Regions from separate parts of the Homo sapiens genome. Here regions 2, 3, 4, 5, 6 and 7 are each linked to region 1. Evidence: fine-mapped expression QTL. A gene starts in region 1. Each other region holds a variant in brackets. All regions are shown on one strand. Distances are from middle to middle.

Region 1 (4,067 bases):
TGAGGCCAACATTCATAGAATGTACATGTCTTATAGATAGGATTCTTAAAATTCTCAATCTCATCTGTATAATTTAAGCAGTTTTAAGTTACTAGATTATATACAAAGAAGTCAAATGTCACAACTAATCGTATCCAATGAACTCACCCACTCATCTAAACCCAAAGTCCTCCGCCCCTTTTTTTCTTTTGAGACAGGGTCTTGCTCTGTTGACCAGGCTGGAGTGCAGTGACATGATCTCGGCTCACTGCAGCCTGGACCTCCTGGGTTCAAGTGATCCTTCTGCCTCGGCCTTCAGAGTAGCTGGGATTACAGGTGCACACTATCATGCCCGGTTGTTTTTTTTTTTTTTTGGTAGAGATGGGGGTCTCACTATGTTGCCCAAGCTAGACTCGAACTCCTGTACTCAAGCAATCTTCTTGCCTCAGTCTCCTAAAGTGCTGGGATTACAGGCGTAAGCCACTGCGCCCAGCCCATCTTTCTTCATTACTGTGCTTCCCTCCCTAATTGTGTACATATCTCTCATTCTCCCCTTCTCTCTCTAGCTCTTGTTTTCTTTTCTTTTTACCTGGCATTCTGCTCCTCATTTTGTACCCCTCTCCTCTCCTGCTGTTTATCCCCTTCTTCCCTCTATTCCTTCTCTTCCACCTCTTCTGCTCCATCCTCGCAACTTACCTAACTTCTTGCTGTTCCTTCTCCCCAATCGTTCTATCGTCCTCAATCTTGATATATTTCCGCCTCTTCTCCCATCTCTGTGCATCCTCTGCTCTCCCTGTTAAATTCCGTCTTCCCTGTTATACCCCCTGTCCCCAATATGTGGAACCACAGATCCCCAGGTGTCCTCCCTGCTGTGGTTCTCCCTCTGTTCTCCTTGCCACCAGCACCACTCTGCTCTGTCTGCCCTGGCTCCAAATCCCTCCTCCTCTCCCTCACTCTGATGAGATTCCCTCTTTGCTGCCCCTCTCCCTACCTTGCTGTCCTTCATCTCTCTGTACATCTAGGTTTCTCTACGTTTCTCCAGTTACTTTTCTCCTCCTGCTTTCTTTTTTTTTCTTTTCACTTTTGCTGTCTCTTGACAAATCCATCACCCACCCTCTACTTTGCCCTCTGTTATGGGTCTTTCTCATTCTTTTCTCTGTCTCAGCTTTTCTACTGCTCTGTCTCCCAATGCCTTTGGCCGACACAATCACAGGAGGGTTTGGATAAGACGCCTGCATCCCGGAGGAGCTCGTTTTCCGGGGGCTGGAGCTGGGCAGGCAAGAACACCCCGTGTCACAGGACAGGCCCCGGGTACCTCCCCAACGCGGGTTCAGGGGAAGAGGTGACTGTGGAGGAGAGACCTGTGGAGCAGCAGGGCCCGCCACGAGGAGGGAGGTGGGGGGGAGACGGCGCCTTAAGACAAGGTTGGGGTCTGCAGGATTCCAGGACCAGGCAAAGTACGCGGCCTCCCTGGGACTGGGGCCCTGGCGCTGCGCTCCAGTGGCCTACGAAGGCGAGGGTGGGAGGCGCCCAGGGCGGGAATCCAGCTCTCGGGTGAGGACTTTAAAAAGCGAGGGGCGGGAGGAGTCAGAAAACAGTTTTGAGCAGGAAAACTACGCGACAGGAAGTGTATACATCGCCCTACAGCAGAAAGACCGGGGACAGCCCAGCCTCAGGGCGACTTTAAACCCAAAAGGAAGCGATATCCGGACTCTCATGGGGACGTCTCAATTTGTCCTGGGTGAAGGAAGAAGGGAGAGAATTTCCAGGTCTGTGGGGACCCCACGTCTCAGGTACAGCAGCGCCGGGGACCTGGTAAGCGCAGACTTAATAGAAGAGCGAAACTCACCGCCACGGTGTAACTTTCACTCCACATAATCCGCTTCCGGGTTTGCGCGCATGTGCGCGCGCAGTACAGAAGCCAGGTCTGGGCGGGGCCCGCGAGGTGGGCGGGGCCTGGATGAGGTAGGGGCGGGGTGGGAAGCCGAGAGACTTTCCCCTTTAGAACCAGCAGTGGGCGGGGCCAGGGCGGGACCTGTGAGTCTCTCAGCATCGTTCCCAGCGCAGAGGCATTTTTCGGGTTTTGGAGGCGAGACCGGCCAGGAAGGCTGAGGCATGATTCAAAAGCCCTGGAATTATCTGGAACGGGGATGCAAACTAGAATGTGAAATGCAAAGCCCTGCCTGGGCGGAAGGTACAATTTCATGCTGATAGCCCACAGAACCGAATAGAAATCCTCTCCCTTTCTATTCTCCATTCACTTGGGAGAGAGTCCACGCTGTGCTCAGCTTTAGAGACTCAGGCCACTGCCTGAGATGCAGGATGGAGTGCTCAGGCCAAGGATGGGTGAGGTCACCACCTGCGGCTTAAACACAGCTGGGATATGGGCGCGGGAGTGGGAGCCTGAGGTCCCAGCTATTCAGGAAGCAGCGGCGGGAGGATCGCCGAGCCTGGGAGTTCAGGCCAGCCTGGGCGACAAAGTAACACCCCCTCCCGCAGGGCTCCCTTCCTCGTCTCTCTCTCTCTTTTCTTTTTTATAATAAAATTTTTGATGATGTTACATAGGGATCCAACATTATTCTTTTCCACGTGGATATCCAGTTAGTTGTCCCAGCGTATTTGTGTAAGAGATCTATCAGTTTCTTTTTTTGTTTCTTGAGATGGAGTTTTGCTCTAGTTGACCAGGCTGGAGTGCAATGGCGCGATCTCTGTCTCCCAGGTTCAATCGATTCTCATGCCTCTATCTCCCAAGTAGCTGGGATCACAGGGATGTGCCACCATGCCCTGCTAATTTTGTATTTTTAGTAGAGATGGGATTTCTCCATGTTGGTCAGGTTGGTCTCAAATTTCCGACCTCAAGTAATCCGCCCGCCTCGGCCTCCCAAAGTGCTGGGATTACAGGTGTGAGCCACCGCGCCCGGCTTATTTTCTTTTATATATTTAGTTTTTTCTATTTTTTTTTTTTTTTTTTTTTGAGGCAGAGTTTTCTTTTTTGGCCAGGCTGGAATGCGGTGGCGAGATCTGGGCTCACTGCAGCCTCTGCCTCCTGGGTTGAACCGATTTTCCTGTCTCAGCCTCCGGAGTAGTTGACATTACAGACGCGCACAACCATGCCCGGCTAATTTTTGTATTTTCGATACAAACGAGGTTTCACTATATTGGCTAGGCTGGTCTCGAACTTCTGACTTCAAGTGATCTGACTGCCTCAGCCTCTGAAAGTGCTGGGATTATAGTCATAAGCCACACTTCCTGGCCCAAAAAATATTCATTTCTTTACTCTTTAAATTTTGAGAAAATATAATGGAAAACAAAAAAAATCTTCCCCCCAATGAGAAATCATCTTCACGATGATAATAGTGAAAGAAATAAAAACCACATTATTAATAAGTAAGCCTTAAACCAGAATGTGATGGGAAATTGAGGCAAACAGCTAAGAGGTTGAAAAGAGACAAGGAAACTTCACTGTTCTATACAACCCATTGAGTACATGTTTTCAAGATAAACACTAATCAGTCCTCAGGGAAGAGGACTTGACAACACTCTTGGTCACACATAGTTCATCCTGGCTCTATTTGGTAATGGAGGTGACCATCTGTGTCAGCTAATTAGCTTCATCCAGAGGGAGGGGGAAAACCCTAACCCATGTCTTTTTGACGAGTGTGAGTTTTACAACATAGCGACGCGTGCCCTCTCTGGTCAGGCGCCTACAATCCGACAGAAACTGACGTCAGCAGTAAATAATAAAATTTAGAATGTAAGATTAAGTACTGAGTTTATGTGAACACAAAGCTTGAAGAAAGCCACCTGGAAACACCAACTCCAAATAAATGAGATCGGCGTTCCAAAGTAGAGACGTTAAGGTTTCACACACAGGGAAAGACAGAGAATCTTTAGCAGAATCATGACAGCTTTCATTCAAGCCCAGTGCATAGGTTGCAGCAACTTGATTGGTTATGGATTGATACAATTCGAGGAAGGTCACTTTATCACTCCATAAGAAGTAACAATGATCCCATGAGGTCTTATCTCTGGGGCTGCTTAGTCTTCCTAATTATTAACAGGAAAACTCTTTTTTGTTTTTCTTTGAG
Region 2 (4,067 bases), 540 kb after region 1:
TATTTCTTTTTTTTGTTTTTTTTTTTGAGATGGAGTTTTGCTTTGTCACCCAGGCTGGAGTGCAGTGGGTTCAGGGAGCTTCCAGAGGGCTGACATGTGGAGGTTCCTGGAGGACGGCATACCCAGGGAGGGCAGGGAAGCTCTGCGCCCCTTTCCCCATACCTCACCTTATGCATCTCTTCACTGGTATCTTCTGTAATAGTATTTATAATCAACCAGTAAAACTGAGTGTTTCTCTGACCTCTAAGAGTTGCTCCAGCAAATAAATCCAACCCAAAGAAGGGTTCATGGGAACTTCAACTTGAAGTTGGTCGGTCAGAAGTTTCAGAGGCCTGGACATGCAACTGGGAACTGAGCCATCAATCTGTGAGATCTGACACTATCTTCATGCAGACAGTGTTGGAACTGAACTGGAGGACAGCCAGTTGGTTGCTTGCTGTTTGTTGGTGGGGAGAAACCCCTCGCATTTGGCCACAGAAGTCTTCTGTGTGGATTGTGGTGTTGGTGTGAGAGCAGAGGAAAACATGGTTTTTGAGTTGTTTTTCCTAAACAGCACCAAAAGTAAATTAACATGAGGTCACCTAACTGAGAAAAACTGAAACAAGTTCAAGGCTAACAATATGGAATTTCACCAAAGGTCATTATATACACAAACGCATTTATGTCCATATATTACTATCCTATTAGTTCATTAATAGATAATAGAGAACAGGCTGGGTGTGGTGGCTCACACCTGTAATCTCAGCACTTTGGGAGGCCGAGTTAGATGGATCACCTGAGGTCAGGAGTTCGAGACCAGCCTGGCTAACATGGTAAAACCCCGTCTCTACTAAAAATACAAAAATTAGCCAGGTGTGATGGCAGACACCTGTAATCCCAGCTACTCGGGAGGCTGAGGCAGGAGAATTGCTTGAACCTAGGAAGCAGAGGTTGCAGTGAGCCGAGATTGCGCCCCTTCACTCCAGCCTGGGCAAAAGAGTGAAACTCCATCTCAAAAAAAAAAAAGACAGTGGAGAACAAATTTAAGGCCACAGAAAATATTTAAAATATGATTTCAAATGATAAAACACATACAATTTATTTAAATGATGGTATGTCTTTTATAAAACCATGGGTGTATGCATCTACATATTCATGTGTGCACATCACATATACCAGTTAAATTAAGTGAAATAAGGAGATGTGTCTCAATGATGTATTTTTTTTTATGACATCTTTAGTTGTCTTTTTTGCTCATGTGCTTTTCAGAAAGTCTGGGACAACTGAAATGCATGAATTGTACTTGATTTAGTTTACAAACATTTTTGTAAATTAAGCTGTAAAAACGCTAAAACAAAAATATGTAAGAACTTGTACTCCAATTGGTATTAAATACAAATATTAAAAGTACAGATACCATTTTTTTCCAGTTAAATTTAGATATTTAGGCATTAACAAAAGCCCAATGGAGGTTTTAGTTTATTTTACTCATGAAATCCTAAGATTAGGACATTTTTTAATATCATACATGAATAGATTTCAGAAGTACATATTGCAACAATACTTACTCAAAGAAATTATTGGATAATTAAAAATCAGTCCAAAAAGGAAATTTGAAAAACACCCAAAAGCTAATATTAAACAAGAAAATTTCACCAAACATCATAATCAAGCAGTAAATGCTGGATGCATTTGATCTAAATTAAAATGGAGAAAATGGGCTGGGCATGATGGCTCATGCCTGTAATCCTAACACCTTGGGAGGCCAAGGCGGGTGGATTGCTTGAGCTCAGGAATTCGAGACGATCCTTGGCAAAATAGTGAGACCCCCATCTTTACAAAAAATATAAAAATTAGCTGGGTGTGGTGGCATGCACGTGTAGTCCCAGCTACTTGAGAGGCTGAGATGGGAGGCTGGCTTGAGCCCAGGAGGTGGAGGTTGCAGTGAGCCGAGATTGCACCACTGCACTCCAGACTGGGCGACAGGGCCGGACCTTGTATCAGAAAAAAAAAAAAAGGAGAAAATGGGGGCTCACCAAGGCT[C/T]CAGCTAAAGCCCACTTCAGAGCATGCCTGAGCTGAGACCAAGAAAAAGGTAAAGTAGGAGCTGGATCTGTTAAAACTAACAGATGACATACTCACAACCCAGGAGAAGAATGCATTGAAGTTTAAGAACTAATAACAATACTGTGAAAACAATCTTCATTCTTTCTTTAGCAGCTCTCATTAGACACAAACACACAATGCATCTCACGAGTACATTAGGAATTATACAATGCTACCTATTAAAATACGTTTCCAGACCTATTTAAAGAAATTATAAGACTGTACTAAAGTGATGATGTCAATAAAATAGAGGACTAGAACTCCCAAACACTACCTCCACCACGGAGACACAAATGTAGTAGCAATATATGAACCAATTGCTTTGTGAGAAACCCAGTGGTCATTTAAGAGGTTGGAACTCTTAACAGAAGTCTAGTAGGAAAATACAGGACATCTGCTCCCAGAGGCCTTACCCTGGCATGATGCAGTGTCACTGCAAGAAAAACACCAATTTCCCATTTCTCCTGGGAGAGGAAAAGTATGAAAACATTCATCCAATATTCTGTCTTTTCAGGGCGCTGCCTGAGGGATAAGTTTCTCTCTTGGTTGAATATAAGTAATGAAGGCCGGGCGCGGTAGTTCACGCCTGTAATCCCAGCACTTTGGGAGGCCGAGGCGGGTGGATCGCTTGAGCTCACGAATTGGAGACCGGCCTGGGCAACACGGTGAAACACCATCTCTATTAAAAATACAAAAAAAAATAGCCGGGCATGGTGATGCATGCCTGTAGTCCCAGCTACGCAGGGGGCCATGGCCAGAGAATCACTTGAGCCCAGGAGGCGGAGGTTGCAGTGAGCTGAGATCGCGTCACTGCACTCCAGCCTAGGCGACAGAGCGAGACTCTGTCTCAACAAAAACAACAAAAAAAAGGAGTTTGGAGTCAGAAACACAGTGACTCACTTGTTCGGCATCAAATGCAAATATAAATGAGGTGACAAAGCTTTCCCCACAGTCGTCTCATTTTACAGCATTTCGTGGGTGCTTGTACACACTAACATCTGACTTCATAACCAGCTTCTCTTATCACAGTTTACACAGAGCTGTCAATATATTCAAATATGTCCTGAACAATCCCTGTTGCCCAACAGCACTGACACCACGGGACCCTCACCCCGTCTCCATCCATGTCGGGGTGTGAGCCCTTCCCAGGTCCATGCCCCGTGCAGCCTCTTCCCAAGTTCATGTCACTGGGTCACCAGAGATGGAATCTAAGTGAGATGAGAGGGACTGAGGGAAGGCACGAGTGAGTGCGAGCAAACCTGTCAGGCAGGATGCTTCAGACTCAGAGAAGATTCCCAACTCCAAGGTCCAAGGTTTCTGAAAGGAAGGAGACAGAACAATCCACCGAGAATATCATCTCACCTGAGGAAGAGCCATCCCTGACTCCTTTGCCTTCCTCTTCCTCTTCTTCCAGGGTTCTACCTTGGGTAACATGAAAGAGACTTTAGAATTCAATCCTGAATGTCAAAAATACGCTGTTTGTTGGTTAGAATCAACACACCCCCTCCCTGGGCCATAACCTTATACACAGGGAAGACCTTATACACAGGGAAGATGGTCCTCTGCTGCCCACTGCACCAGAAAAGATGCAGGGATGAGAAACTCCTACAGGAAAAACAAGTGAGTTTCTGACCTCTTTCTTTAGAACCCACTCCCCTCCTGGAGAAGCCCCCACACAGGCTGCAGCAGTGGGGAGCTGGGCTGGAATGAGCTTCTGTTCGGGGCACAGACCCAGCCCTGACCAAACCCCATGCTGAGCACAGTCCCTCTCCCCTCTGTGAGTCATAGGCTGATCTCAGCCTTCAGAAATGATCAGCAGTGCCCTGGTGCTCAATAGTAGATACAGAATAACAGAACAGAACAAATCTTAAATGTCACTGAAGCTGGGCTGCAACTTATCTGAATGAAAATCTCTGCTAAGGGGGCGTAAGAGATGTATTTGCAAAATGCCTCAGCATTCTTGAGCTCCACTGAGAGGGGCCGAG
Region 3 (4,067 bases), 900 kb after region 1:
TAATGGGATTAATGAAAGCCTGTAACCAAAAAAAAAAAAAAAAAAAAATTATTCCCCTAAGAAGCACACAAAGAGGAAACTAAAAATTACCCTTATTTATTTATTTATCTATTTATTTATTAAGACAGAGTCTTGCTTTTGTTGCCCAGGCTGGAGTGCAATGGTACAAGCTCGGCTCACTGCAACCTCTGCCTCCCGGGTTCAAGAGATCTGCCTCAGCCTCCTGAGTAGCTGGGATTACAGGTGTCTGCCACACATTCAGCTAATTTTTGTATTTTTAGTAGAGATGGGGTTTCGCCATGTTGGCCAAGGCTGGTCTCGAACTCCTGGCCTCCAGTGATCCACCTGCCTTGGCCTCTCAAAGTGCTGGGGTTACAGGTGTAAGCCACTGTCCGGCCGTAATTACCCATATTTATACCATCTAAAGATAATTACTGTTAACACTTAGTATGTATGTTTACTGTCTTCCCCTCCACCTCTAAGCATGTGTGTGTTTTGTTTCTGGAACATTGAATCCTATTAATCATGTAAATGAGGCAAAAACTCTCCAAATCATAGTTTGTAAAAGAAATCCAGCCCAACCACGGGTCACATTATGTCTGTGTGCATGTGGAGAGAAGAGAGATACCAGTCATGTTTCCTTGCTTTGAAAAATTAATCATTGATGAATATGAAAATAGTCACTGGATACCTTACAAATATGGACTTTGGAAATATTCCCAAGGTTATATGTGCAAGTAACGAATATTGACTGTAACATTTCAAAGGTATATGAAATAGAATGAGATAGCACTAGTTTAAAATGTTCACTTTTTTTTTTTTTTTCTTTTTTGAGATGAAGTCTTACTCTGTCACCCAGGCTGGAGTGCAGTGGCGCAATCTTGGCTCACTACAACCTCTGCCTCCCAGGTTCAAGCGAATCTCCTGACTCAGCCTCCTGAGAAACTGAGATTACAATCTCACCACCATGCCCGGCTAATTTTTGTATTTTCAGTAGAGACAGGGTTTCACCATGTTGCCCAGGTTGGTCTTGAACTTCTGACCTCAAGTGATCCGCTCACCTTGGCTTCCCAAAGTGCTGGGATTACAGGTGTGAGCCACTGCACCTAGCTGATAAGAATCTTTAAACTAGATTTTTTAAGGAACTATCATGTCTCTGTCTCCCTAGTTAAAAGGAAATAGCAGACTTGTTACTTTTATGAAAATGGATTGAGATATGTTACTGATTTTTTAGTAATAACAGCTACCTTATCTTAATTGTTATATATGACTGTGTGTTTCATGTGGATGATCCTGTTCAAACAGTCATACATTGTACTATCTTTCTTGTGGTTTTACCAGTGAGGAAACTTTACCACACTGTGAAGTTAATAACTATCAGAGCTCAGATTAACACCCTCAAATCAGACCACAGAGCCTGTGTTAATTTCACCAAAACATGTCTGCTCAAATTATATGTACCATTTTAACCTACCCTTTTCCCTTGTTGATTCTTCAGAAGTTTTCTTAATTAATGAGTCAGTATTATTAGGAAATGTACTCTATGTCATTGTATAACAGACCATGGTTTAATCTGATTTTCCTTTATCCTCCACTGCAAGATTTTCATTTTTAAAAATTATTCTCGACTGGGTGTGGTGGCTCACGCCTGTAATTCCTGCACTTTGTGAGGCCGAGGCAGGCGGATCACCTGAGGTCGGGAGTTCGAGTCCAGCCTGACCAACATAGAGAAACCCCGTCTCTTCTAAAAATACAAAAAAAATTAGCCGGGCGTGGTAGCGCATGCCTGTCATCCCAGCTACTGGGGAGGCTGACGCAGGAGAACCCCTTGAACCCAGGAGGCGGAGGTTGCAGTGAGCCGAGATCGCACCATTGCACTTGAGCCTGGGCAACAAGAGCGAAACTCCGTCTCAAAACAAACAAACAAACAAACAAAAAATTATTCTCTGGAAATTCTGGGTAACGTCAGTGGATTACATCAATGTTAATCTTCTGGTTGTGGTATTATATACTACAATCACCAGCTGAGGTAACCAGGTGAAAGGTACACAAGATCTCTCAATTTTATTTCTTGTAACTACATATGAATCTAAAGTCTATCTAATTAAAAGAGAAAAAGATTTTCAGAAAAAAAGCATTTTGTGAACATACTTCAACATTGTGTACAACTATAGCTACTTCCTTGGCATAAATACCAAAAAGTGGGATTTTGAGTCAAAATGAGACTGTGGTTAAGTACCTGCAACATCCTGTAGACCCTGTGACGTTAGTACTTGGAATGAGAGCGGGACTCACGGGGCATAACTGCTACCTGTACATTGTTTACAATGCAGCAAGCAAGGGACACCGAATAGCAGCTCCGGCAGCCTGTGCTAGCGGCCTGCAGAGAATTCCAGGTGACGCTCCAGAGGGGCTAGGAGAGGATACCCTTCTGAGGACAGCCATGGCTCGCCCGGCATCACCCCACTCAAGAGGCCAGACGGGGTCCCAGCTGGGGTGACACA[G/T]CTCCTTTCCCAGTCGGGAAGGGGCGTCTGCAGGGACCAGGAAGGGCTTAGCTTGGGGCTGCCCGCTCCGGCACCGACCTGGGACGCGCCCTGAGGCCCCTGCCTGGGACCGTCCCGGACTACATTTCCCAGAGACCATCCAGGAGTACGCCGTGCTGCATGCTGGAACACGGGGCTTGGGGCTCTGGTTTCCCCCGACGGCCCCGCGTCCTCTTCTAGCCTCACCCTCTCCCGAGGCCCCAGCGTTGGGGGACTACCGGGTGCGTCTGCGGCTTTGGGAGAGTGGGAGGAGGGAAAGGGATGGGAGGGGTGCACGCACACGTGTCAGTGTGTCCGCGTGTCAGCATCTGTGCAGGCGCACGTGTGTGTCGGGCTCTGTTGTGTCTGCACATGCGTGTCGGCATCTGTGCGTGCGCACACGCCCGTCAGGGTCTGTGTGCCCGCACAGGCACGTCAACAGCTGAGCACGCTATGTATCGGGGGTCTGTGTACGCTCACATACGTGTCGGGGTCTGGGTACGTGCACATACGTGTAGGGGTCTGTGTGCACATGCGTGTCGGGCTCTGCTGCTGTCTGCGCGCTGCGGCCGCTGGGTGCGCGTGCGCATGCGCGCTGGCCTCCAGGGGGTGGCGGGACCGAGTGTGTGACGCACTTGCGTGGGAGTACGAGGCTGACGCGGCGGCCCTGTCCCCGTAACTGTGACACGGGTGCACGCGAGCGTCATTGGGGGCGATGGGGGCCGTGCTGGGTGCGCGTTTGCACCAGTGACGCAGCCGCTGCATCTCCGCCAGTCCGCGCAGGTGAGATTGGTGCGCGTGGCTCCGAGGGGAGACGGGCACGGGGCTTCTGACGGTGACGCACTTGCTGGAGAGTGTGGGGTGACACAGCCGGGCTCTCCCCATAACTGGTGACCGGGGGTGCTCCAGAGGCTTTGGGTCAACGCAGCCCGTGCCTGTGAACCTCGGCGGTGCGTCCCTGGGACTCTGCTCCGTGAGGTGCGCTCTGGGGGTTGTGCGGGGGCAGCGGTCGGGACGGGTCTCCGTGGCCCACGGATGCACCTCTGCACCGTGTGGGGTGGTGGGGCCCGTAGCATGGCCGTGCTGGGCGTTAGTGGGTATGAGGGGCGCAGATGTGTCTCAGGACAGAGTGAGCTGTGGTGAGGCTGAGCTGTGCAGACTTGTGCTGGGATGGGTGATCGGGCCTTCTGGGTGACGCAGGTGTGTGTGACAACACAACCTGTAGCTTCAGCGTCTCTGTGCTGGGATGGATGATCGGGCCTTCTGAGTGATGCAGGTGTGTGTGACAGTGCAACTTGTAGCTCCAGCGTCTCTGCTGCTTCCCCTGCCTTCACCTCCTAACCAAGCGGTACCTGCCTGAGAACAAGGGCCGCGGAGGGACGTGAGCGCCTGAGCCTCGCCTGGAAATTCACCAGCAAGAAGGCAGAAACAGCCATGAGGTGACGCTTTCAGAGCCAGAAGTGCTGTGCATGCAGGCCACCTGAGTGACAGGGGACGGTGGCCTCAGGAGTAGAATTCCTCCTGTAGAGGGACAGGTCCCTGATG
Region 4 (4,067 bases), 120 kb after region 1:
AGATTTTGTTTTTGGGGGGCTTGCTCCCAACAAGTTTGGCCTTCCCACCTCTATACAGTCCGATAACGGACCAGCCTTTATTAGGCAAATCACCCAAGCAGTTTCTCAGGCTCTTGGTATTCAGAGGAACCTTCATACTCTTTACCGTCCTCAATCTTCAGAAAAGGCAGAATGGACTAATGGTCTTTTAAAAACACACCTTACCAAGCTCAGCCACCAACTTAAAAAGGACTGGACAATACTTTTACCACTTTCGCTTCTCAGAATTAGGGCCTGTCCTTGAAATGCTACGGGGTACAGCCCATTTGAGCTCCTGTGTGAATGCTCCTTTTTATTAGGCCCCAGTATCATTCCAGACACCAGAGCAACTTGGACTGTGCCCCAAAAAACTTGTCATCCCTATCTTCTATCTAGTCATACTCCTATTCACCCTTGTCAACTACTCATAAATGCCCTGCTCTTCTTTACACTGCCAGTTTACACTGTTTCTCCAAGCCATCACAGCTGGTATCTCCTGGTGCTATCCCCAAACCACCACTCTTAACTCTTAAAGTAAATAAATAATCTTTGCTGGCAAGGCTATGCTGAACCTCCTTAGGCACTCTCTAATTGGATGTCCTGGGTCCTCCCAATTCTTAGTCTTTTAATACCTGTTTTTCTCCTTCTCTTATTCTGTTTAGTTTTTCAATTCATACAAAACCATATCCAGGCCATCACCAATAATTCTATATGACAAATGTTTCTTCTACCAACCCCACAATATCACCCCTTACCACAAAATCTTCCTTCAGCTTAATCTCTCCCACTCTAGGTTCCCACGCCGCCCCTAATCCTGCTCAAAGCAGCCCTGAGAAACATCGCCCATTCTCTTTCCATACCACCCCCAAAAATTTTCGCCGCCCCAAGACTTCAACACTATTTTGTTTTATTTTTTATTTATTATAAGAAGACAGGAATGTCAGGCCTCTGAGCCCAAGTTAAGCCATCATATAGCCTGTGACCTGCAGGTACACATCCAGATGGCCTGAGGTAACTGAAGAATCACAAAAGGAGTGAAAATGGCCTGTTCCTGCCTTAACTGATGACATTACTTTGTGAAATTCCTTCTCCTGGCTCAGCCTGGCTCAAAAGCTCCCCCACTGAGCACTTTGTGACCCCCGGCCCTGCCCTCAAGAGAACAACCCCCTTTGACTGTAATTTTCCTTTATGTACCCAAATCCTATAAAACAGCCCCACCCCTATCACTCTCGCTGATTCTCTTTTTGGACTCAGCCTGCCTGCACCCAGGTGAAATAAACAGACTTGTTGATCACACAAAGCCTGTTTGGTGGTCTCTTCTCACAGACGGGAGTGAAATTTACTGCAGAATATTTCCCAAAGTCTCATAATGATGCAGAAATACATGTGTACAAGACTTGTTCTGACACCTGGCACAGAACTGACAGTAGTGGCTCCCCAGGGAGGCTGGAAGGAGGGTGGAGGACGTGACAGGGAAGTGACAGGGAAAGGAGATGCTTTATGGACAAGGGCCTAAGCTGCAGCTTTGCTTGGAGCGTTACCACAAAACAAATACATACATCATGTGATGTTTAAATATCACAATATATATTTAATAATAATTGGTGGGGCTGAGCACGGTGGCTCGTGCCTGTAATCTCAGCACTCTATGAGGCTGAAGCAGGCAGATCACCTGAGGACAGGAGTTCAAGACCAGCCTGGAATCCCAGCACTTAGAAAGGCAAAGGCGGGCGGATCACGAGGTTAGGAAATCCAGACAGTCCTGGCTAACAAGGTGAAATTCTGTCTCTACTGAAAATACCAAAAAATTATCCGGGCGTTGTGGCACTCAACTGTAGTCTCACCTACTC[G/A]GGAGCCTGAGGTAGGAGAATCGCTTGAACCTGGGAGGCAGAGGTTGCAGTGAGTCGAGATCACGCCACTGCACTCCAGCTTGGCTACAGAGCAAGACTCCATCTCAAAAAAAAAAAAATTAACCAGCCATGGTGGTACGCACCTGTGGTCCCAGCTACTTGGGAGGCTGAGGCTTGGGGATGGCTTGAGCCTGAAGGAGGTTGCAGTGAGCTAAGATCATGCCACTGCGCTCCAGCCTAAGCAACACAGCGAGACCTTCTCTCAAAATAAAATCAAATATATGAAAACAGAATAACTCAAAGTACGAAAATCCATTTTGTTTATATAGGTCCGCAAAATAATAAAACCTACACAGACTCACAAGAAACTAGATGTTAACAAAAAAAGTTGTCATTTTCCCCAGATTTTCTTTTCTTTCTTTTTTTTTTTTAGACAGGGTCTCGTTCTGTCGCCCAGGCTGCAGTGCGGTAATGCAATCTTGGCTCACTGCAACCTCTGCCTTCTGGGTTCAAGTGGTTCTCCTGCCTCAGCCAGAGTAGCTGGGATTACCGGTGCCCACCACCATGCCCGGCTAACTTCTGTATTTTTAGTAAAGATGGGGTTTCACCATGTTGGCCAGGCTTGTTGTGAACTCCTGACCTCAGGTGATCCACCCACCTCGGCCTCCCAAAGTGATAGGATTACAGGCATGAGCCACCATGCCCAGCAGATTTTCAAAATATATACATATGTGTGTGTAAATATGCATGTATATGTATGTGCATGTGTATGTGTGTGTGTGTATATATGTATATATATATATATATATATATATAAAGATTTTAAAAATATAAAAAGTAACAAGATTTGTTTAACTGAAGAGGAATCTCATCTTGCTAGAAAATGACACTTTGGCAGTTGGGGGTAGGGGGGAATCTTGTCAGATCTAAGAAAACAGGAAATGCCCCATGCTAGAAGAAGCAATCACCCTTTCAACTGACTGACCTGGAGGAAGCTTCAGATATCTGTAGTAATGCAGGCATGTGGAGAGGCAGCCACTATGGCACTCCTTATACAAGGAAAAATCTCAAAGGATCCACATGTTGTCATTCAGCCAATTTCCAAAGCAGATGTCAAAGAGCAAGCTAGCCATGTTTACTAACTTGACAACATGTAAATTTTCGCAACTAGCAGGATCAAATATCAAAGTAAAATATTTACTAAAACACAAAGAAGAAAACAACAGACGCTGGGGTCTACTTGAGGGTAGAGAGTGGGAGGAAGGAGAAGACTAGAAAAAATAGCTATTGGGGGCTGGGCACAGTGGCTTACACCTGTAATCCCAGCACTTTGAGAGGCTGAGAGGCTTCGATCATCTGACATCAGGAGTTCAACATCAGCCTGGCCAACATGGTGAAACCCTGCCTCTACTAAAAATACAAAAATTAGCCAGGTGTGGTGGTGGCATGTGTTTGTAATCCCAGCTACTCGGGAGGCTGAGGCAGGAGACTTGCTTGAACCCAGGAGGCTGAGGTTGCAGTGAGCCGAGATCATGCCATCACACTCGAGCCTGAATAAACAAGTGCAAAACTTAGTGTCAAAAAAAGAAAAAAGAAAAAAAAAACTATTGGGTACTGGGCTTGATACTGGAGCAATAGAATAATCTGTACAACAAACCTCAATGACATGAGTTTGCCTATGTAACAAACCATCACATGTAGCCCCAATCCTAAAGTAAAAACATAAATATAAAACGTTTTATTTTTTTAATTTACTACAGAATTATTTTTAAAGTCTCATAATGATGCAGAAATACACGTGTATGAGACTTGCTTTGACACCTAACACAGAATTGCCAGTAGCGGCTCCCCAGTGAGGTTGGAAGGAGGGTGGAGGACGTGACAGGGAAAGGAGATACTTTATGGCAAAGGGTCTAAGCTGCAGCTTTGCTCGGGGTTTTACTAGAAAACAAATATATCCATCACGTGATGTTTAAATATCAAAATATCTATTTAATAATAATTGGTGGGGCTGAGCACAGTGGCTTGTGCCTGTAATCCCAGCACTCTGGGAGGCTGAGGTGGGCAGATAACCTGAGGTGAGGAGTTTGAGGCCACCCTGGCCAACATGATGAAACCCCACCTCTACTAAAAATACAAAAAAATTAACCGGGCCTGGAGGCACATACCTGTAACCCCAGCTACTTGGGAGGCTGAGGC
Region 5 (4,067 bases), 340 kb before region 1:
TTTTTATGTATTTATTTGAGAGACTGAGTCTCTGTCGCCCAAGCTGGAGTGCAGTGGCCGTCATAACTCAGTGTAAACTCGAACTCCTGGGCTCAAGCGATCCTCCCGCCTCAGTCTTCGGGGTAGCCGGGACTACAGGTGCCCGACCGCACGGTCGGCTTAAGATTAACTTTAATAGCAGGAATTTTCCTGGATCTAATCATTAGCCGACTTTGCTCAGTCCCGGCAAGAGTACAGTTCCGAGACAGCTGAGTTGCTCCAGTCTCCTTGACAGGTCTCCCCGGCAAAACCCGGAAAACAGAGGCACTGGAAGCGAGGCGGAGGGAAGCGCAAGCCCCACTCCGCCCCGCCCCCGCCCCCGCCCCCGCCCCCGCCCCCGCCCCCGCCCCCGCCCCCGCCCCCGCCCCCGCCCCCGCCCCCGCCCCCGCCCCCGCCCCGCTCGGACCCCTCCGCTGCGCGCGCAGTTTCCCACAAACCCGGAAGCGGATCGCGTGGAGTGAAGGTCACGCCGCGGCGCGTGAGTTTCCCTTTGTGTAAATTAATCTGCGCTTCCCAACTCCCCCGCGCTTCTGTACCCGGGATCTGAGGGGCCACACAGACCTTGAAATCCTCGCACCGCTCCCTCTACCCCGACCAAATTCAGGCGTCTCCGTGAGAGTCAGGCGGTCGCTTCCCTGTGTGTTTAAATCGCTCGGCGGCGGGTCCTGTCCCCCGTCCTTCTGCCACAGGGCCATGTAGTCACCTCCTGTCGCGGAGTTTTCCTGTTTCAAGTCCTTCAGTGATGCTTACATCCGCCCCGCACAGCGTAAAGTCCTCCCCCGCTAGGCGGATTCCGGTCTATGCGGTCCCCCAAGCCTCGCCTTTGTTGGCCCTGGAGCACAGCGCTCCAATCTCAATCCAGGAGAAGCCGCGTCTTCTGCCCAGTGCTGGGATTCTGCAGACGCCACCCATCTCTTGATCCAGACCCTACCTTTACCCTCCTTGATACGGGGCCCCGCTACTCCCCAGGCCTCCTCTTCCCAGACACCGCTTCTCCTAACCCTGCGTGTGGGGAGGTGACTTACTCTGTCTCTTGACATCCAGTGTTCTTGCGGGCCAAATAACACCCCACTGAAAAGGTGTTCTGCTTGTGGACATCGGATCCCAATTCCTTCCATGTGAATGTGTGCAGAAAGAGAGACGGAGAGCGAGGGAGAAGAAAGAGAAAAATTTTGAAGGAGAAAAGAAGATTGAGGGAGAGCCGTAAGCAGATGGCAAAGTAGAGAGTGGATGGAGGATTTGCAGAGACAGCGAATGAAGCCGAGAAAGTAGCAGGGGGAAAAAAGCAACTGGAGAAATGCAGAGAAAAGTTCCATCTCCGGAGAGATGAAGGACAGCAAGATAGTGAGAGGGGCAGCAAAGTGGGAAGTTCCTCAGTTTGAGAGTGGGGGAGAGGGGGAGGGATTTGGAGCCAGGGCAGACAGAGCAGCGTGGTGCTGGGACAGCAAGAGGAGTCAGCTGGTGACAACGAGAGCAGAGGGAGAACCACAGCAGGTGGAGGCCTGGGATCTCAGGGTGCCAGAGAGTGGGGACAAGGGGGTGTAACAGAAAAGAAGGGATTTAACAGAGAGAGCAGAGGGGGAGTAGAGTCAGGGGAAGAGGCAAGACCGGGCACAGTGGCTCACGCCTGTAATCCCAGCACTTTGGGAGGCCAAGGTGGGTGGATCACGTGAGGTCAGGAGTTTGAGACCAGCGTGGGCAACATGGTGAAACCCCATCTCTACTAAAAATGCAAAAATTAGCCGGGCGTCAGCGCGCGCGTGTAATCCCAGCTACTCAGGAGGCTGAGGCAGGAGAATTGCTTGAACCCGGGAGGCGGAGGTTGCAGTGAGCTGAGATTGCGCCATTGCACTCCAGGCTGGGCGACAAGAGCAAAACTCCGTCTCAGGGAAAAAAAAAAAAAAGAGACAAATAGGTGGAGAATGGGATGATCAAAGATTGAGCAGA[A/G]AGTTTGGAAGAGGGGTGAAACAAGTTGCCAGAATGGAGCAGAACAGGTGGAAGAGAAGGAATAGAAGGAAGAAGGGGAGAAACATCAGGAGAAGAGAGGGGCTCAAAATGAGCAGAATCTTAGGGGAAAAATAAAGGGGGAAAAAAGCTAGAGAAAGAAGGTGAGAATGAGAGATACGTACAGAATGAGGGAGGGAAACACAGTACCCAGAAAAGAGGGAACCCTGGGTGCAGATGAACGGTGAGTTGATTGGATATTATGATTAAGTTGTGACATTGATTTATCTATTTATAATTTGATAATATGAAATATACTTTAAAAATACAGATGAAAATGGATATGCAAAACTCCTGTCTGTAAGGCTGGTGCATTTTATAATTCTTGGCATCAGACTTTAGCTTCCACTCACATTCCCTATTCAGGCACAGGTCAGTGACTTGAGTCATTCAGGTGTGGGTCACCCACTTTCCTTTTCCTGGGATGGGGTAGGGTGTGGGCGAGTGTAAAAGATAGCAGGAAAACCAAAGTGTTTTTCCTACTCTTGCAGTCAACACAATAGTGAACACTCAACACAGAATGCTTCATATCTGATGAACAAAATGTGTGGGGATTTCTTCCCACCAACAAGCAATTCGTCAGACACCGCCTGGGTGATCCGTAATTTCAGTCAAGTTGACACTGTCTACTTGAAGTTAGCATCAGATCCCACAGGTTGGGGGCTCAGTTCCACAAGGCTGCCGCTACTTCACGTGCTGGTTGTAAGTTCCTGGTTGGGACCTGAACTTCAACCAAACATCTAAAAATTGAAGATTCCCTTGACCCTTTGCTCAGATTTTATTAATTTGTTAGCCTCATTCACAGAACTCAAGGAAGCATTTTGCTTAGTTTTACCCATTTGCTATGAAGAATATTGCAAAAGATACAGATGACTAGCCCGATGGAAGAACCCTCCTAGCAAATTAATCAAAAGAAGGGGCTTTGGGATACCCTGATTTTTTTTTTCTTTTGTTTTGTTTTGAGACAGAGTTTCACTCTTGTTGCCCAGGCTGGAGTGCAATGGCATGATCTCAGCTCACTGCAACATCCATCTCCCAGTTTCAAGCATTTCTCCTGCCTCAGCCTCCCAAGTAGCTGGGATTATAGGTGTGTGCCACCACGCCCAGCTAATTTTTGTATTTTTAGTAGAGACGAGGTTTCACAATGTTGGCCAGGGTGGAATAAATGGAGTTCAGTACTGTTTGAAGTTCCAGGCATCCAATGGGGGTCTTGGGACATCTTCCCCATGGATACGGGGATTCCAGTGTGTTCTGTCTCTGGTGCTGAGCACCAAGGCTCTGTGTCCTCCATTTCTGAGGGATTACATGAGCCTGGGATCCATAGAGAGGAGAGGAGGGGCTGTGCTCTGCATGGGGTTTGGTCAGGGCTGGGTCTGGCCCTGAAGGGGAGCTTAGACCAGGCCAGCTCCCCACTGCTGCAGCGTGCGTGTGGGCATCTCTAGGAGGGGAGCAGGTTCTGAAGACGAGTAAAAAACTCACTTGTTGTTCTTCCTGTAGGAGTTTCTTGTCTCTGCATCAACTCTGGTGCAGTGGGCAGCAGAGGACATCTTTCCGCAGGGTGAGGTCTAACCTGTGTGTGTGATTGTGGCACAGGAAAAGGGTGTGTTGATTCTAAGCCCTAAACAGCATATTTTTGACATTTAGGATTGACTTCTAAAGAGTCATGCTGTGTGATGAAAAAGCCCAGAAGAGAAGGAAGAGGAAAGCAAAGGAGTCAGGGATGGCTCTTCCTCAGGTGAGATGATATTCTCGGTGGATTGTTCTGTCTCCTTTCTTTCAGAAACGCTGGGCCTTCGAGTTGGGAGTCTTCTCTGAGTCTGAAGTGTCCTGCCTGACAGGTTTGCTCACGCTTACCTATGCCTTCCCTCAGTGCCGAGACCAGCTTGGTCGTGGGGACCCTAACCTAGTGGCACTAGAGGAATTAAAGACACAGACACAAGAATAGAGTGTAAAGTGGGATCAGGGGCCAACAGCCTTCAGAGCTGAGAGCTGCGAACAGGGTTTGACCCACATATTTATTGACA
Region 6 (4,067 bases), 34 kb after region 1:
GCTCCCTCTGTGAGGGCACAACCTTCTATATAAGTAAATTGCCTTTCTGAGAAGAAAAAAAGAAAATTTTATATTTGGTGCTATTTCTTTTGCAGCACCGAAACTTTATTTACAACACACTTAAAATGAGTTATATTTGTCATGGAAAAGAGTCAAACTCTGTAAAATATTTTAAAATATTTATTCTGCACTAAATATGAATAATCATGGCCCATGACACAACTCTCAGGAGGTCCTGAGAACATATGTCCAAGGTGATGGGGAACAGCTTCTTCTTAGACATTTTAGGGAGGCATTAGACATCAATCAAATACATTTAAAAGATGCATTAATTTTGTTCAGAAAGGTGGGACAACTCAAAGTGGGAGCTTCCAGGCTACAGGTAAATTTAAACATTTTCTGATTAGAATTGGTTGAGTTTGTCTAAATACCTGGGATCAATAGAGAGGAAATGTTCAGGTTAAGATAAAAGATGTTGGAGACCAAGGTTCTTTTGAAGTCCTCTGCTGGCTGCCTTCAGAGAAAATAGATGATGAATGTTTTTTATTCAGACCTTTAAAAGGTGTTAGATTTTTAGTTATTCTCTTCAGGATTGGTAGGGCCTAGAAGAAAAAGATCTAGCTATGTTAACAGAGATTCTTTGCAGACGCACATGAACCCCTCACAAACGATACCTTTGAAGGACCATTTCAAAATATGGCACAGAAACATGTTTTGAGGTCAAATATTTTGACTTTCTTCTTTGCCATATGTTTTGTGGTTTGTAAGGCATGACCCCCTAGACTCTTTACATAGGAATTTGGACAAGATAAAAAAATCAGAGCTTACACCTCATTCTCAAATACTTTTTTTTACAGTTCTTCCCTGCAATATAACTACTTTTACGATAAATGTTGTTGACAACATAATATGCTAACATCAATAATTTATAAATGTATTGTAATATTAAATTCACTCTATGTGCCTTCTGAAAAAATTAGAAAATGTACCTTTTATCTTCAAGTTGTACTTTTTTTTTTTCCTTCAGACAGGACCTAGTTCTGTCACCCCGGCTGGAATGCAGTGGCAGGAACACTGCTCCTTGCACCCTCAACCTCTGGTGCTCAAGCAATCCTCCCGCCACACCTCCCAACTAGCTGGAGCTGCAGGCCCTCACCACCAAGCCTGGCTAATTTGTTAGTACTTTGTAGAGGGGTGGTCCCACTATGATGCTCAGGCTAGCCTTCAACTCCTGGACTCAAGCGATCAACCCACCTTTGCTTCCCAAAGTGTTGGGGTTACAGGCAAGCCACCACACCCATCCAATTGCAATCTATTTTAGGTGTTTTCTTTGTTATTCTCTCCTGAGTGTTCTATCAGGTGGGAATAACAAAGGCTATAAAATATGCAGTCTTTAAATGTTAGGATTTATTTTCATATAGAGAAAGATCATGAAATATTACTAAGAATACATTGCAGTCAAGTTATTCCGTTTTACTTGGGCCCTGAAAAAATATAACTAAGTTATAAAATTGGCTGGGCACATTGACTCACACCTGTAATCCCAGCACTTTGGGAGGTCGAGGCAGGTGGATGACCCAGAGGTCAGGAGATTGAGACTAGCCTGGCTAACATGGTGAAACCCCATCTGTACTAAAAATACAACAATTAGCTGGGTAAGGTGGCACAAAACTGTAATCTCAGCTACTCAGGAGATTGAGGCAGGAGAATCTCTTGAATCCAGGAGGCAGAGGTTGCAGTGAGCAAAGATCTCACCACAGCTCTCCAGCCTGAGCAAAAGAGTGAGATTCTGTCTCAAAAAAATAAAAATAAAAATAAAATGAAATTATAAATCACCTCATTTCTGCATGTAATACTTTTATGACTATATCTGTAAGTTAACATGTACTATGAACTATGTTTTTCTCCCACATCCCTAGCTATGGAAGAATTCATCTATCAAACACTAGTAATTAGCTAAAATATGATTACATTTAGAAGGGAAATTAGCATATCTAGAATATTAGCAAGTTTAAAAAAGCATAATGTCGTCAGGCATGGTGGCTTGTGCCTGTAATCCGAGCATGATGGGAGGCTGAGGCAGGAGGATGGCTAGTGCCCAACAGTTGGAGTCCAGCCTAGGCAACATAGCACCTCATCTTTATGTTTTAAAAATTAATTAAGTTACTTATTTATTTTTGAGATTGAGTTTGGTTCTTGTTGCCTAGGCTGGGGTGCAATGGCACGGTCT[C/T]GGCTCACTGCAACATCTGCCTCCTGGGTTCAAATGATTCTCTTGCCTCAGCCTCCCAGGTAGCTGGGATTATTGGTGCTCGCCATCATGCTGGGTTAATTTTTGTATTTTTAGTAGAGACGGGGTTTCACCGTGTTGGCCAGGCTGGTCTCCAAATCCTGACCTTCCAAAGTGCTGGGATTACAGACATGAGCCACCGTGCATGGCAAAAAAGTTTATTTTAATCAGAAATAATTAATAAATAGAACATGATAATGGGTACAAAAAATAGAATAAGACCTATTATTTCATAACACAACAGAATGACTGTAGTCAATGATTAAATTGTACATATAAAAATGGGGATGGCCAGGTGTGGTGGCTCAAACCTATAAGCCCTGTCTCTACCAAAAATACAAAAAAAACTGGATGTGAGCCTGTAATCCCAGCTACTCAGGAGACTGAGGCATGAGAATCACTTAAACCCAGGGAGCAGAGGTTGCAGTGAGTGGAGATTGCACCACTGCATTCCAGACTGTGCGAAAGAGCTGGACTCCATCTCAAAAAACTAAACAAATGGCTGGGCACAGTGGCTCATGCTTGAATCCCAGCACTTTGGGAGCCAAGATGGGTGGATCCCCTGAGGTCAAGAGTTCGAGACCAGCCTGACCAACATGGTATAACCCTGTCTCTAAAAAAATACAAAATTAGCCGAGGGTGATGGCGCATGCCTGTAATCTCAGATATTCAGGAGGCTGTGGCAGGAGAATCATTTGAGCCAAGAAGGCAGAGGTTGCAGTGAGCTGAGATCGCACCACTACACTCCAGGGTACACAAGAAGAGTGTAACTCCATCACACACACACACACACACAAAATGCTATAAACAGAACATCAGAAAAAAAATATAGAAAGTCACATGTATTTAAAAACCTTAAGCTTTTGAAAGCTGTTTTCCCAAGTAATCAAAAATGAGCCAATAACGATGCAAATATTATCTTTTTGTTTTTTGTTTTTTCTGGAGACAGAGATCATGCAACTGCACTCTAGCCTGGGTGACAGAGTGAGACTCCAACTCAAAAAAATAAATAAATAAAAAATTATTAGGCCAGGAGCAGTGGCTCTTTGGGAGGCTGAGGTGGGCCAATCACCTCAGGTCAAAAGTTCGAGACCAGCCTGGTCAACATGGTGCAACCCTATCTCTACTAAAAATACAAAAAATTAACCGGGCCTGGTGGTGTGTGCCTGTAATCCCAGCTACTAGGGAGGCTGAGGCAGGAGAATTGGTTGAAGCTGAGAGGTGGAGGCCGCAGTGAGTCGAGATCATGCCACTGCCCTGCAGCCTGGGTAACAGAGTGAGACTCCATCTCAAAAAAAAAAAAAAAAAAAAAAATTACCAATGTCAACTGAACTTGGAAAGCACCACACATTTGCACACTCACACAGACACAACCCTCTGATATGGCTCTAGACCAAATCCACAGGTTAAAAAGCCCTCAAATGAACTCTTGGGCCTTAAGCCTTTCAAAAGATCACCTGTTTCCTGTGAGGTTGGGGCTGTGGCCCTGATGTGTGAAGACTTAGGACCATCCTGTCATCATAGAAACCCTAAACAAAATAAAGAAGGAAATTTACCTCAACAATATAAAAGACCATCCATGAAATGACCACAGCTGAAATAACCAATCAGGAAAAATTGAATGCTTTTCCTGTAGGATCTCACATGATGCTAGAACGTTCTCACCCTTTCTATTCAATCAATACTGACTGTCCTAGCCAGAGCAATGAAATAGCAAAAGAAATCAAACTCATCCAAATCAGAAAGAAATAAATAAAATTTTATTTGTTTGTAGATGACA
Region 7 (4,067 bases), 54 kb after region 1:
GGTTTGGGAGGCGACAGCGGCCAGGAAGTATGAGGCATGATTCAAAAGCCCTGGAATTTTCTGGAACGGGGATGCAAACTAGAATGTGAAATGCAAAGCCCTGCCAGGGCGGAACATAGGATTTCATGCTGACGGCCCACAGAACAGAACAGAACTCCTCTCCCTTTCTATTCTCCATTCACAAGGGAGGGAGGGTCCGCCCTGTGCTCAGCTTCAGAGACTTCCCTAAAGCCACTGCCTGGGGTGCGGGACGGAGTGCTCAGGCCAGGGAGGAGTGAGGTCACCACCTGCTGCTTAAACACAGCAGGGGTGCAGGCGCGAAGGCGGGAGCCTGAGGTCCCAGCTACTCAGGAAGTAGGAGCAGGAAGATCGCTGAGCCCTGGGGTCCAGGCCAGCCTGGGCGACAAAGTAACACCCCCTCCCGCAAGGCCACCTTCCTTGTCTCCCTCTCTCTCCGTCTCTCTCTCTCTCTCTCTCTCTCGCTTTTTAAACCTTTTTAAATAAAATTTTTGATGGTGTGACATAGGGATCCAACATTATTCTGTTCCGTGTGGATATCCAGTTAGTTGTTCCAGCACATTTGTGGAAGAAATCTATTACTTTTTTTTCACGTTTTTCTTTTCTTTTTCTTTGAGGGAGTCTCCCTCTGTCGCCCAGGCTGGCGTGAAGGGGCGTGATCTCTGCTCACTGCGACCTCTGCCTCCTGGGTTGAAGCGATTCTCCTGCCTCAGCCTCCGGAGTATTACAGTATTACTGGTATTAGAGGCACGAGCGACCATGCCCGGCTAATTTTTGTATTTTTGATAGAGGCGGGCTTTCACCATGTTGGCCAGGCTGGTCTCAAACTCCGAACTTCAAGTAATCTACCTGCCTCGGCCTCCTAAAGTGCTGGGACTACAGGCGTGGGCTACCTTGCATAGCCTAAGGAATGCTCTTTACTGTTTAAACGTTGAGAAAATATAATTGAAAACAAAGAAAATCTTCCCCCAAATGGGTAATTATCTCCACGACAACAGAGAAATAAATAAAAACCATTTTAATAAAGAACCTTAGACTCAAATGTGATGGGAAATAGAGGCAAACAGCTATGAGGTTGAAAAGAGAGAAAGAAATGTCACTGTTCTATACAACCCATTAAGCACATGTTTTCAAGATAAACACTAATCAGTCCTCAGGGAAGGGGATTTGACAACCCCTTGGGTCACACATACTTCATCCTGGCTTTACTTGGTAATGGAGGTGACCATCTGTGTCAGCTAATTAGCTTCATCCCGAGGGAGGGGGAAAAACCCTAACCCATGTCTTTTTGACAAGTGTGAGTTTCACAACATGGGGACAGGTGCCCTCTCTGGTGAGACTCCTACAATACGACAGACACTGATGTCAGAGGTAAATAATAAAATTTAGAATATATGATTAAGTGCAGAGTTTGTTTGAACACAAAGCTTGGAAATAGCCACCTGGAAACATCAACTTCAAATGAATAGGATCAGCGTTCTCAGGTGGAGACGTTAAGATTTTACACACATAGGAAAAGACAGAGAAGCTTTACCAGAATCACATTTTCCATTCAAGACCAGTGCCTAGGGTGCAGCAACTTGACTGGTGATGGATTGATACACTTCAAGGAAGGTTACTTTATCACTCCATAAGAAGGGACAATGATGCCAAAAGGTCTTAACTCTGGGGCTGCTTAGTCTTCCTAATTATTTACAGAATAACCTTTTTTTTTTTAGTTGTTTGTTTGTTGTTGCTGTCATTTTTTCAGACAGCGTCTAGCTCTGTCACCCAGGCTGGAGTGTACTGGCACTATCTCGGCTCACTGCAACCTCCA[C/A]CTCCCGGGTTCAAGCAGTTCTCCTGCCCCAGTCAGCCAGGTAGCTGCGATTACAGGCCAGTGCGACCACGCCTGGCTAATTGTTTTCTGTTTTTAGTAGATACTGGGTTTCACCATGTTGGGCTTCTCCATTAATCTCTCCTGCACACTTCAGACCACATCCACACACACTTAAATCAACTTCAGTTCAGAGATGAGAAGCAAAAACCTAGAGAGGACACATCCACAGTTACTCACCAGGCTGAGGTGGGAGGATTGCTTGACCCTGGAGAGCAGAGGTTGAAGTGACTCAAGATCGCACCACTGCCCTCCAGCCTGGGGGACATAGTGAGACCCCGTTACCCACATCCACCAAAAAGTTGGAAATGCATTGAAATAAGAGACAGCTTCAAGAAACTATAAAAGCAATGCATGCAGAAAATTCAAAGGTCAACCAACATACAGAAACTATGAAGAACTACACAGAAACTCTTGGGCTAAAAATAGAGTAACTAAATGAAAAAACGCAATACATGGGTTCAAAATCAGAATTCATTAGGTAAATTAAAAATTAGTGAAGAGGGGATGGGTGAGGTGGCTCACACCAGGACTTTGGGAGGACAAGGTGGGTGGATCACTTGAGCTCAGGAGTTTGGAGACCAACCTGGCCAATGTGGTGAAACCTTGTCTCTACTAAAAATACAAAGATTAACAGGGTGTGGTGGTGAGCTCCTGTAGTCCCAGCTACTCTAGGGGCTGATACAGGAGAAGCACTTGAACATGGGAGGCAGAGGTTGCAGTGAGCCGAGATCACCCCACTGCCCTCCAGCCTGGGCGACAAAGCAGGACTGTCTCAAAAAATAATAATAATAATAATAATAAAATAGGCCAGGCCTGGTGGCTTATGCTTGTAATCCCACTATAAAAAAAAAATACAGAAAATTAGCCAGGCGTGGTGGTGGGCACCTGCAGTCTCAGCTACTCGGGAGGCTGAGGCAGAAGAATGGCATGAACCTGGGAGGTGGAGCTTGCGGTGAGCTGAGATCATGCCACTGCACTCCAGCCTGGGCGACAGAGCAAGACTCCATCTCAAAAAAAAAAAAAAAAAGAAATTTATCCTTACTACTTACTGTCTACACATAGATAATCAAAGGCAAGTAGTTAAAGACATAGTTAAAAATATGACAAAACTGGCCGGGCATGGTGGCTCAAGCCTGTAATCCCAGCACTTTGGGAGACCGAGGTGGGTGGATCACAAGGTCAGGAGATCGAGACCATCCTGGCTAACACGGTGAATCCCCGTCTCTACTAAAAATACAACAAATTAGCAGGGTGTGGTGGCGGGCGCCTGTAGTCCCAGCTACTCCGGAGGCTGAGGCAGAAGAATGGCGTGAACCCGGGAGGCGGAGCTTGCAGTGAGCCGAGATCAACCCACTGTACTCCAGCCTGGGCGACAGAGCAAGACTTCGTCTCAAAAAAAAAAAAAAAAAAAAAAGACAAAACTGACACATGTGCCCATACAAGTGTAGCATGGATTCAACCCTGATGCCATGTTTAGAAAGTAGTTCCCAGCACTAGGAGGATTTAAAACTCTTATAATAGGAGTTATTATAGTAATAGAAACCTGCTTACTGCTGCCTTGTTTGCTACCTGTACTTCTTCAAACGATAAAAAGCTTCATCGCTATTTTAGTTCACCAAAATGCTTCAGCACAAGTGTACTATATGAATCACTATCAATCTGTTGCACAAAAAGACATAAGCAGCAAAAATAAGAGTGAGAATTCCCACTAATAAAAAGTGAGACTCTCAAAGGGGGGAAATGAGGGAAGAGAGAGAGACCCTCTCATATTGTTTTATATTGTTTTATACTCAGTACCTGTTTTAAGAAAAAAACAAGGAAGTGAAACCAAAGGCAGGCATCCCGATGCCAGGCATCAGACCTAAAACCAGACCTGAAACCAGGCCTCGGCCTGCCTGGCCTAAACCTAGTAATTAAAATTCCACCCCTGACCTAGCAACTGATGTTATCTATAGATCCCAGACATTGTATGGAAGGACATTGTGAAACCTCCTGTTCTGTTCTGTTTCACTCTGACCACCAGCGCATGCACCCCCTGTCACATACCCCCTGCTTGCTCAAATCAATCACTACCCTTTAATGTGAAATCTTTAGTGTTGTGAGCCCTTAAAAGGGACAGAAATTGTTCACTCAGAGAGCTCGGATTTTAAGACAGTAGCTTGCCAATGCTCCC

The links.
Region 2: its variant is fine-mapped to the expression of ZNF83 in stomach (GTEx, PIP above 0.99).
Region 3: its variant is fine-mapped to the expression of ZNF83 in esophagus mucosa (GTEx, PIP 0.92).
Region 4: its variant is fine-mapped to the expression of ZNF83 in ovary (GTEx, PIP above 0.99).
Region 5: its variant is fine-mapped to the expression of ZNF83 in testis (GTEx, PIP 0.96).
Region 6: its variant is fine-mapped to the expression of ZNF83 in transverse colon (GTEx, PIP above 0.99).
Region 7: its variant is fine-mapped to the expression of ZNF83 in skeletal muscle (GTEx, PIP above 0.99).

The regions. Positions count from the first base shown.
Region 1 is chr19:52,636,484-52,640,550 of GRCh38, forward strand. ZNF83 (zinc finger protein 83) reads right to left here and starts at 1,872. Exons shown (of 3, transcript NM_018300.4): 1 at 1,829-1,872. It also overlaps the pseudogene LOC124904757. RefSeq lists enhancers at 800-1,318, 1,319-1,836, 1,590-1,709 and a silencer at 1,920-2,119.
Region 2 is chr19:53,179,440-53,183,506 of GRCh38, forward strand. It overlaps ZNF665 (zinc finger protein 665), which reads right to left. Exons shown (of 4, transcript NM_024733.5): 2 at 3,445-3,504. The coding sequence starts at 3,459. Among named protein-coding and RNA genes, the nearest start is that of ZNF665, 12 kb to the right of the region's middle. RefSeq lists an enhancer at 2,759-3,275. The variant C/T (reference allele first, on the strand shown) is at 2,023.
Region 3 is chr19:53,534,992-53,539,058 of GRCh38, forward strand. It overlaps ZNF331 (zinc finger protein 331), which reads left to right and starts at 3,154. Exons shown (of 6, transcript NM_001079906.2): 1 at 3,154-3,305. RefSeq lists enhancers at 2,882-3,398, 3,184-3,233. The variant G/T (reference allele first, on the strand shown) is at 2,505.
Region 4 is chr19:52,755,509-52,759,575 of GRCh38, forward strand. No RefSeq gene overlaps it. Among named protein-coding and RNA genes, the nearest start is that of ZNF611, 22 kb to the left of the region's middle. RefSeq lists an enhancer at 603-1,318. The variant G/A (reference allele first, on the strand shown) is at 1,869.
Region 5 is chr19:52,296,707-52,300,773 of GRCh38, forward strand. ZNF480 (zinc finger protein 480) reads left to right here and starts at 463. Exons shown (of 5, transcript NM_144684.4): 1 at 463-517; 2 at 3,688-3,778. The coding sequence starts at 3,707. RefSeq lists enhancers at 525-574, 645-694. The variant A/G (reference allele first, on the strand shown) is at 1,987.
Region 6 is chr19:52,670,438-52,674,504 of GRCh38, forward strand. All of the region lies in intron 1 of LOC122539214 (Zinc finger protein LOC122539214), which reads right to left. It also overlaps a transcript of ZNF83 not described here. Among named protein-coding and RNA genes, the nearest start is that of ZNF83, 34 kb to the left of the region's middle. RefSeq lists enhancers at 1-362, 3,573-4,067. The variant C/T (reference allele first, on the strand shown) is at 2,231.
Region 7 is chr19:52,690,674-52,694,740 of GRCh38, forward strand. No RefSeq gene overlaps it. Among named protein-coding and RNA genes, the nearest start is that of ZNF611, 42 kb to the right of the region's middle. RefSeq lists an enhancer at 2,687-3,222. The variant C/A (reference allele first, on the strand shown) is at 1,835.